Regions from separate parts of the Homo sapiens genome. Here region 1 is linked to region 2. A link means that fine-mapping ties the variant in region 2 to the expression of a gene that starts in the linked region. Tissue or cell type: whole blood. Region 2 holds a variant in brackets; the other region holds the start of a gene. All regions are shown on one strand. Distances are from middle to middle.

Evidence for each region.
Region 1: it holds the start of ZNF2, and the variant in region 2 is fine-mapped to the expression of ZNF2 in whole blood (INTERVAL, PIP above 0.99).

The regions. Positions count from the first base shown.
Region 1 is chr2:95,161,984-95,170,313 of GRCh38, reverse strand. It overlaps ZNF2 (zinc finger protein 2), which reads right to left and starts at 4,505. Exons shown (of 5, transcript NM_021088.4): 1 at 4,454-4,505. RefSeq lists enhancers at 4,389-4,818, 4,246-4,880, 4,881-5,517.
Region 2 is chr2:95,043,180-95,051,509 of GRCh38, reverse strand. It overlaps MAL (mal, T cell differentiation protein (MAL blood group)), which reads right to left. Exons shown (of 4, transcript NM_002371.4): 2 at 3,384-3,551; 3 at 1,804-1,929. It overlaps LOC124906047 (a long non-coding RNA gene), which reads left to right and starts at 3,437. Exons shown (of 3, transcript XR_007087138.1): 1 at 3,437-4,234; 2 at 4,732-4,995; 3 at 5,363-5,625. RefSeq lists enhancers at 3,269-3,808, 7,267-7,922. The variant CTTTT/T (reference allele first, on the strand shown) is at 4,553.

The sequences.
Region 1 (8,330 bases), 120 kb before region 2:
AACACCCCCAACCTAACGGGGAGAGATTAGGGTTTGAATCTTGCTGGGAGGAGGCAGATATAAACACAAACAGAAACAAAGACATGTCAATTGATAACCAGAGCATGCAACGTGTATTGTCTAAAAGTATTCTTTTCCTTTTTGGTCTGTTAAGATTCGTCCATCACAAGAGGGTATCCAAATATTACCCTTAGGCCCTAGAAATAAGTCAAAATTAGCATTTAGAGATACAGGAAAGTGTAGTCATTGGGAGTACAGGCTCTGGAGACAGACTGCCTGAAATCAAAATCCACCTCTGCCTCTTCCTACCGGTGCTACCTCAGGAAAGTTTCTTAACCTGTCTCAGTCTGCCTGTTTGCAAAACTGGAATAACGGAAGTAATATCTCTTGCAGTTATCTTGATGCTTAAATAGGGTAACACATGTAACACATTTAGAATAATGTGCTAAGTAAAGTTAGTATAAGCTAATGTAATGTAATAAGTAATGTTATAATTCTAGGAAGGTAGACACACTGAAAATATTAATTACACTGAGTTGTTGCATTTTTTTGTTTGTTTTTTTTGAGACAGGGTCTCGCTCTGTCTCCCGGGCTGGAGTGCAATGACATTATCTCGGCTCACTGCAACCTCTGCCTCCCCGGTTCAAGCGATTCTCCTGCCTCAGCCTCCTGAGTAGCTGGGATTATAGGTGCCTGCCACCATGCCTGGCTAATTTTTGTATTTTTGTAGAGGGTTTCACCATCTTGGCCGGGCGGGTCTTGAACTCCTGACCTCAGGTGATCTCCCCACCTTGGCATCCCAAAGTGCTGAGATTATAGGCATGAGCCACTGCGCCTGGCCGAGTTGCTGCTATTTTAGAGTAGGTTTAAATGTAAGTGCAGTAATAACTTTGGAGTCAAAGTATTTGTATATGTTTGTCTAAAGCACTGGAGCTTTTTGAACAAATCAAACCATATCCAAAACTGCAGTCGAAACTGCTCAGTGTTAAATGTTTAAAGACAATTTTCAAAGTTTTGTTTATTAGATTACAACTTTAATTAAACTGAGCACTGAACGAATTACAAATGGTGGTGAACATATAAGCTCCCCAGTTATTAAACAACCAGTGGATACTCCCAAAGTGCTCCTCATCCGTAGACTTCTCTCCCCATTAGGTTTAGACTCCACCAGCAGTCACTTCAGTAAGCTCACTGACACTGAAGACTTCTCAAATCCACCAAACTCACAGGGAGTTACTGCTAGCCAAGAACCACCTCCACTTCTGTGTTCTCTTTTCCTATCCCTGCATCTCAGAGTATCACTGGAGAAAATGTCCCCTAAATTCAGTCTATATCTTCAAACGAGCCCTTGACATCGTCCAGAAAGCTTTTACTGCTCCCATCTTAGCTACATGGCTATTCCAAACCTCCATGGGTACCATTCAATTTCCGCATAACTTTTGTCTTCTACCACACCAAAGATTCCCAGGAATGAGTTTCAAGGGAAGCAGGGTTATATGGTAGAAAGCATTCCACAAGCATGGAATTATTAACCATGAAGCCTTGGATGAGTTACTTAAGCCAACAGTTGTTTACCACCTAACTCACAGCATAGTTATAAATGGTGAGACCATTAATATAAAGCATTTATCATACAGTTCATTCAACAAATAAAGTTCTCTTCCTTTCTACTGCCCAATGCAATCCATCCACTCATCCCACTATTTGATGAATATGTACCAAGTAGCTGTTATGTGCTAGGGCAGCGAGATGTGTGAGGTCAACAAGACAGAAATGTCTGTCTCCAGGACTTTACCTTTGTGTCCTATACCCTGGGTTCCACTGTTTTTCACATTGCTTCCTCTCAGAATTTGTCCCTGCACTTCCCAGTATTTTTTTTTTTTTTTTTTGAGACGGAGTCTGGCTCTGTCGCCCAGGCTGGAGTGCAATGGCACGATCTTGGCTCACTGCAACCTCTGCCTCCCAGGTTCAAGCGATTCTCCTGCCTCAGCCTCCTGAGTAGCTGGGACTACAGGCGCGGGCCACCATGCCCAGCTAATTTTTGTATTTTTAGTAGAGACAGAGTTTCACCATTTTGGCCAGGATGGTTTCAATCTCTTGACCTCATGATCTGCCTGCCTCAGCCTCCCACAGTGCTGGGATTACAGGCATGAGCCACAGCGCCCAGACCCCAGTCTTTTTTTTTTTTTCTTCCAGCATTTTCCACCCCAGTAGCACTTTCTTTCAACATCTTCAAAGACATACAAGCCTCCTCTACCTGAAACTATTTTCACTGAATCCCATGACCTCCTTCTAGCAAAGCAGTTCTCATTTAGGTTGTCCTTTCATGATCAAACTTTTTGGAGAATAATAACCTACTGACTCCACACTGTTACCACTTACTCTTCTCCAGTCCCTGTTTTTCAGCTTTTGCCCCTCACACACCTGAAATGGCATGCTTGAAAACTACTTTTTTTTTTTTTTTTTGAGACGGAATTTCACTCTTGTCGCCCAGGCTGAAGAGCAATGGCATCATCTCGGCTCACTGCAACCTCCACCTCTCGGGCTCAAGTGATTCTCCCACCTCAGCCTCCCAAGTAGCTGGGATTACAGGCACCCGCCATCATGCCCTGCTAATTTTTGTATTTTTGTAGAGACGGGGTTTCACCATGTTGGCCAGGCTGGTCTTGAACTCCTGACGTCAAGTGATCTGCCCACCTCGGCTTCCCAAAGTGCTGGGATTACAGGCATGAGCTACCGCACCTGGCCTACCAATGCATTTCTGATCCTATTATCTCTATTTCTTTCTTTTTTTTTTTTTTTTTTTTTGAGACTGAGTCTCGCTCTGTCACCCAGGCTGGAGTGCAGTGGCGCAATCTTGGCTCACTGCAAGCTCCGCCTGCCGGGTTCATGCCATTCTCCTGCCTCAGCCTCCCGAGTAGCCGGGACTACAGGCGCCCGCCACCACGCCCGGCTAATTTTTTGTATTTTTTTAGTAGAGACGGGGTTTCACCGTGTTAGCCAGGATGGTCTCGATCTCCTGACCTCGTGATCCGCCCGCCTCAGACTCCCAAAGTGCTGGGACTTACAGGCGTGAGCCACTGTGCCCGGCCATATTATCTATTTCTCTGTAGCTTTTCACTGTTCGGACAAGCTTCTGCTTATTCAAGTGGTTACTGTAACTGCTATGATACTGCACTAGCTTTTCTTCCAACCACTAAAATTGCTGTCTTTCTGTGACTCTTTTTCCCCACTTTTGCCCTGGAAACATGGATGCTGCCCATAGCTCAGTCTTTGTACTTTCTTCGTTTTTGCCATCCCTCAGAAAGTCCATCCACATTCAGGGCTCCATTTTCAAACTCTACAGATGTCCATGTCCTGTAATTGTATTGTAATTTTACAATACAACTGTATTGCATTCTTCCAGACTCATCCTGCATTTCCAAATGACTGCAAACCTTAAATCAGGCGTTCCACCATCACCTCAAAACTATCTTCCTTTAGGCAATTCCACACATCAACGCCTCTTCCTGGCTTTACATTTGTATCAGATGTTTTATTGTTCTCCCAGGTGTCCCAAATTCAAACTCTTACCTCACTCTCTTTCCTCCCAAATCTAGTCACCAGGCCCTTTTGACTCTTCTTTTGCAGTGTCATCTGTATCCTTCCCTTTCACTACCACCACCATAATTCAAGTCCACAACATCTTACTCCAAAACTACCATACATTCCTAAGTAGCTCTCTGCTACTGGTCCTTTCCCCTCTCTAGTCCTGAATGTGACCTCTAGAATAACTGTCTCCAAATAGTTTCATTCGTGTCAGTCCCTGGATCACACCTATATAAGCCACCTTGCCTACTGAGTCTTGTCCTGATTCTCTGAGTCCCGGGCCCTGGCTCCCAGCGTACCTTTTCTTCAACCTTGTCTACCACTGTTCCTGCATTTCTGTAAAAACTATCTCCAGCTCAAATCTGCCTAACGCTTAGCTGCTTCTTTCGTGGTTTTTGTTTTGTTGTTGTTGTTTTTCTTTCACGTCAAATCCCACCTCCTCCATGAAGCCCTCCAGCACTCGTGCGGAGGCCCAGGGCAGGGAGCTAAATGAGGCAATCTGAGGCGCTGTCTGGCAAAGACGGAGCGGCAGCATCCTAGATTTGGTGTCAATTCCACCCACGTTCATTAAGCACCCATTATGGGAAGAAGAAACGGGAGAGGCGGAGGAAGACTCCAAACCTCCAACCTTAAAGTCCGGGACCGACATACAATGGGTGCCCAGACCCCACGGGACACACGCACACACGGGGGTGGATGCACAACTTTCCGTCCGCACCGAGACGTCGCGACACACGCTCTGCAGGCTGGCCTCGCCCGTGTCACCCCGTTTTGCTCCCACAGCACCTCCCCAAAGTTCTCATGTCCCCTCTCTCGGCTGCTGCGCTCACTCCGCTCCTTGAAGACACACACCCACAACCCTCACCTCCGGCACAGAGTGCTCGGGACCCGGGAAGACGGCGCCTCTTCAGGTCGGGAAACCAACGCGCCTGCGCACAGGGTCCTGGCGACTGCGCTCCCAATCAATGCGGGGCCTTCGCAAGGACTTCATCTCCCAGAAGTCTCGGCGTCCGGTGCGCTTTAATATGACGTCCGAAAATGTGTGCAAACGCCGGCTTCCCGTGGCTGAACAGGATCCAAAATGGCAGCGCTGTCGCCTTAGCTGGGAGAGCGAGCCGTTGTGGCTGTTTGGGAGACTTATGGTCACCCTGAAGTACTGCCTGCCTCTAGTGTCGCGTCCCTCCAGTATCCGATGGGAGCGCCGTCCGCAGGGAATGTGTCTCTCTGATCATGGTGCCTCGTGTCCAGCTCTGGGGAAGACCGAGACGAAATCGAGTCAGCTGGCGTTGGGAGAGGGCTTATTTCCGCTTCCGCTTGCCCACTTTCAGGAATTTGATTCTGAGAGCAGGGCTGCGGTTCCAGGCAGGGTTTGTACACATATTTGCGTTGGAAGGAGAGAGGAGCCTAGGACACATATGTATTAACTGTGCAGCTGGTCCGACTCCCGACAGCTTCAGCGCACACCAGCCAGCCTTGGAGTTGCTGGAACGGCCCTGGCTGCAAGCTGGAATCACCCGGAGAGCTTTCGACATTGATGCCTGAGGCCCAGCTGTGGAGCGACAGTTTGAAAAGAGCTGCAGGTGACTCTAATGTGCAGCTAAAGCTAGGAACCACTGAGCTACATCTCAGGGAAGACTGAAAATTACAAAGAATATGATAAAATCTTACTTCAGGAACAAAGCTACGTTTTTCCAGGTTAATTTATTAGTGGTTTGGGTTTTTTTTAAGTTTTTGTGGGTACACAGTAGGTGTGAACATTTATGGGCCACCTGAGATATTTTGACACAGGCATGCAATAAGTAATAATCTCATCAGGACAAATGGGATATCCATCACCTCAAGCATTTGTCCTTTGTGTTACAAACGATCCAGTTATATTCTTTTAGTTACTTTAAAATATACAATATTATTGGCTGTAATTACTCTGATGTGCTATCAAATACTAGTTATACTATTTCTTATTCTATTTTTTGTACCCATTAACTATCCCCACTTCCCCACCCCGCCAACCCTTCCCAGTCTGTTAACCATCCTTCTACTCTCCATCTCCATAAGACTACACTTTCATTCAAAAAATCCAAATTGCTCACCATAAGCAAGGCACAGTTACAAATATGAGTAAGTTACTGCCCCAAATGAACTCTTGGTCCAATGGAAAAAATCAGAATGTAAAATCACAATAGAGGCAGTATGTTCTATAATTATGTCACATTCAACATACTATGAGAGTACAATGGAGGAAGCTATTAACTATGGCCGGGAAAGGTGGGAAAGGATTCCTTTCACTGGTATACTTAAATACTTAAGAAAAAAAAAGTGTGATCTAAACAGTGAATAGTACATGCAAAGGCATAGTCTAGAGGATAAAAGTGAAAATAATTAGTAGCAAAATGAATGCCTTGTGGATGAGGTTTAGGGGCCAATAACTATCTTGAGGTAAGGCCAGGTTGTGGCTGCCTTTGTGTTGTACTAAGGGGTTTGGACCTTCCTAGGAGATTAGAGCTTGATTAAAGTCACAACATCCATAAGAGAAATACTTTTTTTTTTTTGTTCCCTTCTGTGTGGTGGTTTTTATTATTTAGCCTTATACTGAGGGTGGAAACTGGGGTCCTGAAAGTGTTTCCTTCTAGAATATTCCCCACCCACTGGCAGGCCCTAGGCTTTGTCTTTACCGCTTCCAGGTAGCTGCCAAAGTGGAAGTTTATGTGCTCTAGGATTTAGCAGTCTAAAAGTCAGGTTTGTTGCTCGATTCTCAGAATTCTAGCTCTCACTTTATTTATTTTTTGAGACAGGCTCTGGCTGTGTCAGCCAGGCCAGAATGCAGTGGCATGCTCTCAGCTCACTGCAACCTCCACCTCCTGGGCTCACGTAGTCCTCCCATCTCAGCCTCAAGAGTAGCTGGGACTACAGGCATGCACCACCATGTCTGGCTACTTTTTGTATTTTTTTGTAGACATGGGGTTTTACCATGTTGCCCAGGCTGGTTTCAAACTCGGGCTCAAGCAATCCACCCTCTTCGGCCTCCCAGAGTGCTAGGATTATAGGCATGAGCCACTGCACCTGGCCCATTTCACTTTATTTTTTTAAATGTTTACAAATTCCTCACTTTCATGCCTGCTCATCAGTGTGTTTATAAAGATGTTTGCAATTTTTCAGCATTTTTAGTTTTTTTATTAAGAGGGCTGTTTAGGCCATCTAATCGGCCATGTTACTGGGAAGATTAAGAGAATTTTAACTGATATTCTCAAAAGAGTTAGGAGGAGCATATGGAAGCTAAGCAGCCAAGAAGTGACATACATCCATCTTTTTAGAGTAAAACAGGTATCTCTTGGGCCCAGAAGCTTGTAGGCTCTGCCAAATTGCAGGATGTTATGGCCGTCTGATGCTGTTTAACCACTCCAAACTTAGTGGCTGAAAACAACAATTTTATTAGGCCAACATGTTCTGTGGGTCGGGAACTTGGATGGGCACAACAGGGATGGGCACACAGGGATATCATTTGGATATCCTCTCCAAATCTCATGTTGAGATGTAAACCCCAGTGTTGGAGATGGGGCCTGGTGGGAGGTATTTGGGTGATGGGGGCAGATCCCTCATGGCTTGGTGCCGTCCTTGCAATAGTGAGTACTCCTGAGATCTGGTTGTTTACGTGTGTGACACCTTCCTGCCCTCCCCAACTCTGTTTTGTTCCTGCTTTCACCATGCAAAGTGCAAACTCCCACTTCACCTTCCACAGTGAGTGAAAGCTCCCTGAGGCCTCCCCAGTAGCCAAACAGATGCCGTTGCCATGCTTCCTGTACAGCCAGCAGAACCAAGAGCCAAGGAAACCTCTTTTCTTTATAAATTACCCAGTTTCAGGTATTTCTTTATAGCAGTGCAAAATGGCCTAACACAGCTCGTTTCTGCTTCACAATTTCTGGATCCTCAATTGGGAGGACTATATCTGGCACCCAGATTGGCACCCGTGGCTAGGCTCAGCTGGGACTGTTCGCCAGTGTCCCCGCATGTAGCCTCTCTTTGTGCTTGGACTTCCTCACAACATGGTGGCCTCGGGGCAATCAGGCTTCTTGCACCTCATTTCAGGGCTCTAAGAGGGTCCCAGTGAGCAAGACAGAAGCTGCATGGCTTTATTTATTTATTTATTTATTTTGGAGACGGTTTCGCTCTTGTTGCCTGAGCTGGAGTGCAATGGCACGATCTTGGCTCACCACAACCTCCGCATCCCGAGTTCAAGTGATTCTTCTGCCTCAGCCTCCCGAGTACCTGGGATTACAGGCGTGTGCCACCATGCCCAGCTAATTGTGTATTTTTAGTAGAGACAGGTTTTCTCCATTTTGGTCAGGTTGGTCTCCTGAGCTCAGGTGATCCGCCCACCTCGGCCTCCCAAAGTGCTGGGATTACAGGCATGAGCCACTGCGCCCGGCCAAGAAGCCAGTTTTCGTTTCTTTTTTTTTTTTTTTTTTGAGATGGAGTCTTGCTCTGTCACCCAGGCTGGAGTGCAGTGTTGCAACCTCGGCCCACTGCAGCCTCTGCCTCCCGGGTTCCAGAGATTTTCGTGCCTCAGCCTCCTAGGTAGCTGGGATTACAGGCGCACGCCACCACACGCGGCTAATTTTTGTATTTTTAGTAGAGACGGGGTTTAGTAGAGACAGGTGTGAGCCACTGCGCCCGGCCGCCAGTCTTAAAAATTTACAAACTGTATGATTCCATTTATGTGACATTCAGGAAAAGGCAAAACTATA
Region 2 (8,330 bases):
TCCACTTATATGAAGTTCAAAGGCAGGCAAAACTGAACATGGTGCTAGAAATCAGAATTGGGTGGTGGTGGGGGTGCACAGTGATGGGGACAGGACTTGAGGGGATTTCTGGGAGTTGTTTATCAGGCCCTAATTCTTAGTCCAGATGCCAACTACACTGGGGAGTTTGCTCTATGAGAATTCATCAGACTGTGCGCTGGTAACTGGCCCTAATTCTTAGTCCAGACACCATCCACACAGGGAGTTCGCTGTATGAAATCCATCAAGCTGTGGGCTTGTAACTGCACACCTCTCTGGCTGTGTGCTGCCTTTGATAAAAGGTAAAAGAGGAAAGTCAGAAGGCAGTAGAGCCTAGTGGTTCTCAACTAGAGACCTGCCCAGCGGGAAGGGGTGTTCATTCCCCTAGCTGGGTTTTTCCATCAAGTGCTGACCCACTAACCACATCCCATCTACATTTCGCAACCTTTGTTCACAACAATTTTATGGAAATTATTGTCAGACACTTTGTTGATGTTTGTTAAAAGAGAAGGCTTGGCTGGGATGGGGGAGGTATGAGGCAGTCTTGGGAGAGGGAGATGAGATGGAATTGTGTGAAGAAGATGGAGGGTGGCTCACCAGCCTCCCCAGGAAGGAAGATCAGTCAAGATGCCCCCTGGCTGTGCTGCTGCTTGGAAACCAGCCATGTTGGGAGATGGGCCAACACGGGAGATGTTTCCACACCGCGGGACCCCTGGGGGGATGCCAGGATCCTGAGGGGGCCCTTTTTAGGGGAGCGATTGTAGGCTGGGAGCTTGAGGGCAGTGTGTGGTTTCCCCAGGGCAGGGGACTGTGCAAGGGGACCAGCAAGTGAGGCTTTGAGGGATTTTCCCCTGGGGCCCTCCTTCTGGGAGTGGGAAGAGGCACTTCACCAACCCCATTTCTAAAGCCTATCTGTGGGTCTTCTCTCAGCCTCTGCCCTACACTTTCCAAAAAGAGGGGATGACACAGCTTTGGCTACTAGAGCTGGTATCTCAGGATCTGTCACCACATTCTACCTTGGGATTTGCATAATTCATAGGTTAAGTTCTAGAGATCTGAAGAGTGCTCTTTCTGAAACTTCTTACTTTTTAACAATACCCATGGTCAGAAGCATGTTTTATATCGTAGACTGGTGCAAGGGCACACATGCACAGCTCTGAAAAACATGTGATGAAACAATATATTCTGTTACCCTGTCATTCTGATCCAGTCCATTAAGAAGAAAATCCACCTGGCCTCAGCGTCCCCACCCCTGGCTGGATGCTTCAATGGACGACCACTTGGGGAGAGTCAGGAGACCCATGAGGTCAGACTCACAGCCCCAAACTGGTGCTGAGAGTGTGGGGACTGGGCCTCCAGCGTTGATGCCAGGTCCCACAATGACTGGTGATCTTGGGCCAGTCACACTCTCTGGCCCCACTTCTCCATCTGTGAGATGGGTGTCATAATCCTGGGTTGTAGGGTTGCCATGGATGTTAAATAAGATTGTTCAGGGAGCACTCGGACAGGGCGCTGGGCAGCCGCATCCCCTCACACATCTGCCCTCTGCAAAGCCCACGCAGGCCTGGGGCATGCAGCCCTGGCCGGACGACTAAGCGGAGTCTTGGGCACAACATGACACTGCCCTTCTCGGGGGCTTTCCTGCTCCAGGCATGAAGGCAAGGTTTGACCTCACTCAAAAGTTAGTGAACTGAAAACAGACCAAGGGCCTAGGCAGCCTCCACACACACCCTGCCAGCCACGGAGCCGCCCGCTGTGGACACAGCCCCAGGTGCCCGGACTCACCACGGCAGCAATGTTTTCATGGTAGTGCCTGTAGGTGAAGCCGTCTTGCATCGTGATGGTGGCCAGGGCCTCCAGGACTGAGGCGCTGAGGTAAAAGAGGGCAGCGGTGCAGTGGTAGGCTGCGTCCTATGGGGCAGACGGGGTGTCAGAGGGATGGGGAGAGAGAGACGGGGCCCAGATGCAGAGCTGAGGTCCCCTCCACCCCCGCCCCTTGCCTCTCCCCCCACTTCCTTTGAATCCCACCCCTCCCAACCTTGTCACGGAGGTCCCATGCCTGCCCTGCTGTGCTGAGTCTCACTTCACTGCTGTGGGGCCAGAGTGAGCACTTTGCTGGGGATGGGACACTGGTCTCCCCTGAGGAAGGGTCAAGGGAGAGGTGGAGGAAGGGCCAGCAGCTTGGGGTGTCCCAGGGAAAAGCTGGTCCTGGATCTGAGAAGTGTCGTGCATGGCCACAGTCCAGGTTGGGTGTGGCCTCGCTGACCAGTGCAGGGTGAGGGAGGACCATGCTGTTTCTTTCGTTTTGTTTTGTTTTGTTTTGTTTTGTTTCATTGCTTATTTTTGGCCCCTGGTATATTTAAAAGCAAAAAAGGGCTGGGCGTGGTGGCTCATGACTGTAATCCTAGAGCTTTGGGAGATTGGTGCAGGAGGATCTCTTGAGGCCAGGACTTGAGACCAGCCTGGGAAACATAGTTAGATCCCCATTTCTACACAAAACAATACATCTTAGCTGGGTGTGGTGGCACATGCCTGTAGTCCCAGCTACTCAGGAGGCTGTGGCAGGACGATCACTTGAGCCTGGGAGGTTGAGGCTGCAGTGAGATGAGATTGCGCCACTGCACTCCAGCCTGGGTGACAGAATGAGACCCCCAACTCAAAATAAAGTAATAAATGAAAGCAAAAAGGTACTAAAACAGGGTTTTGTGTAGTTGTGATTTGGAAGTGATTTCAAAAGTCTAAGTAGCAGAGCTTTTGAGAGTGACAGCCTTGGCCAAATGGCCCCACCACCCCTACAGCAGGTAACAGGCAAGTGTCCTACATGTAAAAGTTACCTTTTCATGGGTCTCAAAGCAGAATTTATACAGAATAATGACCAAAGGCCGCTTCTGTTTCCCAGTGCTCTCTGGCAGCCCTGCTTGGAAGGCAGTGGCTGAGGAGCTGGACAGTAAGCATGGCCTGACCCTCAGAGCCAGGGCCAATTTCTGGAGCCCAACACCTTGGTCGGCCTCTGGGGCCCTGCTGCCTTGAGGTGAAAACAGCCCTTGCAGGTGATGGGAGGGGCAGGCAGGCACCTGGCGGGTACAGGTGGTGTGGGGGCTGGGCAGCTGGTTATCCATGGAAAGGCAGTCATGCAGGAGAACACAGAACAGGTCCAGTGAGGGTTGGCAGCGGCGACCTTGCCTCTGCCCCTGCCTCTCCTGATTCTGCTGCCAGGAGCCCTGGGCAGGCTCAGCCTTGGAACATGGTGGGGTGACATCTACGGAGAAGTCTCACCTGGCACTGGAAAAGCCCATCCTACTGGGCCAGGGACCAGTACTTCCTGCGCCCCCCTACAACCAGCAGCCACCCTGGGCTGGACTCACCAAGGTGACCCAGGAAGTCTCTCCACCGTGGGCTCCAATTATGTACAGGATGATCAAGGTGGTGGTGGCCACGAAGCAGAACACAGACACGAACATCACCCAGCCCTGGACCAGGGGCCAGGGCACCAGGGAGGAGGCCACCAGGATCCACACCAGGCCCCCGAAGATCTGCGGGGGAGGAGGAGGGGTGAGTTTTGGCCTAGAGGAGAGCCCCAGCCCAGGAAGGGCCCCCGACCAGCGGTCACATGGGGTGACTGGAGTGCAAAAACACAGGAAGCAGGCAAAGAGAACAGGGCAGGCATTTTCCTCTGCAAAAATGCATCTTTAGTCCCCCCAGGGCCCTGTGCTGGATCTCAATCCCAATCCCCGGCACGCTTGCCCTGATTAACTTTTTAAAACTTTTTTTTCTTGAGACAGAGTCTTGCTCTGTCACCCAGGCGTGAGTACAGTGGCGTGTGGCTCACTGCAACCTCTGCCTCCTGGGTTCAAGTGATTCTCATGCCTCAGCTTCCTGAGTAGCTGGGATTACAGGTGCATGCCACCATGCCCAGCTAATTTTTCTATTTTTGGTAGAGACGGGGTTTCACCATGTTGGCCAGGCTGGTCTTGAACTCCTGACCTCAGGTGATCTGCCCTCCTCAGCCTCCCAAAGGGTTGGGATTACAGGCGTGAGCCACTGCACCTGGCCTGAGTAACTTTTTAAATATGGGTTTAATTTTTTTATTTAACAAACACTTATATCAGACCTACATTCCAGGCACTATCCTAAGCACTTTACAAATAATAACTCAGTGATTCTCACAGTAACCCTCTGAGCAATGCTGACCTGTTTGCCAGATGAGGAAACTGAGGTAGGTGGAAGTTAAGTAATTCATCATTCTGAGAAAGGATTTATGCCATTTGGTATTGTCATGAGAAGAGCTGCTATTTCTTCTGATATTCTAGCCCTCCTACTTGCTTTGATATTAAAATGTCCTTTCCTTTATGCAATGGTAGTGACCAGCAGATCTTTTTGGTCTTTATTTGGCAAAACAAATTAACCACACTGTCAGTAGTCCCCTGCCCTGCCCTTCCTTTCTTTCTCTCTCTCTCTTTCCTTCATTTCTTCTTCCCTCCCTCCCTCTCCTTCCTTCCTTCTTTTTCTTTCTTTCTTTCTTCTTTCTTTCTTT[CTTTT/T]TTCTCTTTCTTTCTTTCTCTTTCTCTCTTTCTTTCTCTCTCTTTCTCTCTCTCTCTTTCTTTTCTCTCTCTCTCTCCCTTTCTCTTTCTCTCTCTCTCTCCCTTTCTCTTTCTCTCTCTTTCTTTCTCTTGCTCATTATTTCTTTTTCTGGATTCAACTGTTTATATTCCCAAGTCCAGGAAGTGTTCTGATGATCAGATTTGGAGTTGGAATGGAGTAACCAAGGACAGCCTTGTCTCTTTGGATGGCTGAGGATGGGCATGAGGAAAGTACAGTCCCGTGGTTATCCAGAATACACCCCAGTTGATGTCGCCAGGGTCAGTGAGCCCCATACAGTCAAAGAGGAGCAGACATGGGGGCCAGTAGCACCCCTCAGTAGCCCAGCCCCGCTCCTCGCCGTGGATGGACACATACAAACCCGCTCCCCACCGCGGATGGGTACGTACAAACTCCGTTCCTCACTGTGGACAGGCGTGTACAAACCCCAGCGGGGACTTTCTGCACTTCTCTTTCCCTTCTCCTCATCTCCCCCAGCGCCACCCCCACCCAGTAAGAATCAGCTCAGCCTCATCCACATGTTCCCCACTTGGATGAGGACTGGGCTCGAAGCACTCCAGGCCTATGTGGAGATTCCTTTGCAGCCAAAAGTCTCCAAGGTACTACAGAAGTGTCTGGGGGGCTGAGGATGGGGCTGCCCTCCCAGGCCTATGTCCCCTGTGGTTTGAATTCACATAGCACCTTGACCCCCCCACCTCCCTGCACCTGCTGCCCACCTGCTGGGTGAGAGATACCGCTGTCTTCACAGGTGTTCTCTGAGCTGCTTGACTGAGAAGCAATCAGGAGAGAATTGCATTTGGGTAGAAAAATCAGTGCAATGAAGACTTTGGATTTATTAAAACCAAGTTGTCCCTAAGGAATCAGATGTGGGCATCTCTGACCAGAAAGCGTCCTCTGCTGATGGATCTTAGGTTGCCTGAAGGCACGTGGCAGGGCCGGTGGGATGCACTGTGCATCTTACAAAAATGGGAGCAAAATCAATTAAATAAAAATGCCCAGACCACCATGGAATAAGATGTGTGTGTAGATTTCATCCACAGTTGAGTTTAAGATTCAACAGATTATGTGGCCTTTTCCATAACGGGCACTGACGGAGGGACAGGAGCACATTGGTACAGGCAGGGCTTGGATTCAGGAGGCATGCGAGGGTGGCATGGAGAAATAGGAGGAGGATCCAGCGGGCACATCCAGTGGGAAGAGGGAGGCCCTGGCCTGGGAACCCCTCTCCTAAGTGCCTTTTGCCTGGTGGCTACGTGACCCTCCCAGGAGGACCAATTTAAGTTGCTTCCTCGTTCACACAGTCTCAGGGAGTCCTGCACGTCTTCTCTGTAGCACTCAGCACAAACACAGGTATATTGGGTTAGGGATAACATGGCGCTTTCCCTGACCAGGTGATGGTGGGCTTGAGGTCTGCCTTGCTCACAGCTGCCTCACTGGTGGGGACCAGGAGAAGACCCATCCAGCCATGCATCGGTGTCCAAGTCAGCTAACGGGCCTTGGTCTCCTGGTACCTGGGTGTGGCTGAACTAGAGCCACTTATGAACCAAACCCCAAAGGAGCAGCTTGGGTTGCACATGGTTGGGAAGAGACTCCGTTATGGAATCCCAGTGGGACCCCGTGGGCCAGAGGCGCTTACGGGTGACCTATACACATGCTATCGAGGAACACTGAATTTCACAGTGAGGAAACGATTTTCCTCCTCCTTTACTCTCTTTGGTTTTTCTGATGAAGGCAAGAAGGGCTCAGGGTGGAGCCAGGTGTCTGGAGTTCTCTAATAGCGTGGATAGGCAAAGGTAAACCGGATAGTGACATTGTTTCTATGCTTATGGTTGCAATGTCATTATTTTGGGAAAAATTAACTGTAAAATACATATGAGGTAAATTAATGCACAGATGGCAGCTGGAAATGGCAAATCTGAGAAGGTAGTCCTCAGCTCCTGTCTGCAGAGTCATCTCACTCCACTCCATTCTTCCCACGTGGCTTAAGATGTGACTGGTGTGAGGAATCAATGGCAGGAAAAGTGAGGGGAAGTCAGTGTGTGGAGAGCTGGTCACAGCCTCCTGTGTGCACCTTGCTGGCTGCAGCCACAGCCTGGGCTCTGAGCTTCCGGCAGCTGCGCGGAGGGCCTTGAGGTCAGGCCAGACTCTGCCCTGTTCCAGTGTGTGCTTTTACCAACCTGATGAAGACTATTTTCCAGCTCCCTGGGAAATTCCATGCTCCCCACACTGGCTCGCAGGTTCCTGCAGTCTATAGTGGGAACCTTGTCCACAGTTGTCCATAGAACAAAGCCCACTATGGGTTTAACCCCAGCTCCTGACAGATCTCAGGACCCCACCCAGCCTCTGGGGGCATCACCTTGCAAGTGAGTCCTTTAAAAAATGAGGCCGACTTTTTTCCTTTGCATGGTATATTTATAGCAGTATGTTTCATAGTGAGATGGTGGGGAGACATTATCTTTTTCTTTTCTTAAACAGCTTTATGAGCTATAATTCACAGCCCATGCAGTTCCCCCATTGAAAGGGTATGATTCCCTGGTTTTCAGAATATTCGCAGATACGTGCGTCCATCACCACAGTCAATCTTGGAACATTGTCATCACCTTGGAAAGAAATCCCATGAGCTGTGGCTTCCCTGCCCCCATTCCAAGCAACCACTAATCTACTTTCTATCTCTACAAACTTCCATATTTTGAACTTTCATATGAATGGAATCATTCAACATATGGACTTTTGTGGCTCACTTCTTTCATTTAGTATAATGTCTTCAGGTGAGAAATTCTCTCTCAAGGGGACTTACACAGAATATCTCTACCGTTGCAGCTGCACAGTGCCCCTTTTGGACCCCACCATTCAGGGGGCCCTGGGTGAGTGTGTCTCATGTCCCTGGAGCCTCCAACCCAGAAGCCTCTGAGGAACCACGTTCCTAGGGACGCTCTTACACCAGTCCTTGCCTGTCCCAGAAACATATGAAGGTGAAGGTAGTCACAGATGTCTCAGCACAGATGACATCATGAAAGCCAGGGGTTTGCTCCCAGGGGATGGGCAGTGGGGCGGTCGACCTTCCGCTCAGCACTGCCCAGGAGATGCCCAGGGAGGACTGCAGAGCCCAGGGTCACAGGGGCCATCTGGGGGACAGGGCGGAGGAGGGTGAAGAGCAATCCTGAGAAGAAGAGGAGGATACGGGAAAGGCACAGCCGAGTCAGGAGAGATTTCATTCCCGGCTAGGTGTCTGTGGAACAGAAACAGCTGTTGCCTCAGCTGAGTCATGCCCCTTGCCTTTGGAGCACAGGCCTTTGCCGCGGTCTTCTCTGGGAGAATTCTAATGCAGAGGCGCCCTGCCAGCTCCCTCCCCTTGGCAGGGGACTCCCGTTCTCAGAGGAGCTGTCCTCCGAAGTCACTGTGGGACGCTGCAGCAAGTGATTCTGCCTCTTGGCCCCAGCTTCCTCTCTGCAAATGGCAACTCACAGCAGTCTCCCCACACTGGGGGCTGGTGTGAACTGGCTAAAACTACAGATGTGAGTATGAAGCTTCTGGCACTGAGCCCAGCACTACCAATACCTGGGAATAAGTTGTCGTTCATGCAGGAGGCTGACAGCTCAGTGGAAACAGATGCATAAGCAGCCACTTAACATGCAGGTGGACAACCAGCCCCGAGTGGGCAGAGCAGCCTGGACAGGTGCATAGGGTCAGTCGAGCCTTGGAGAGAGAGGTGGACC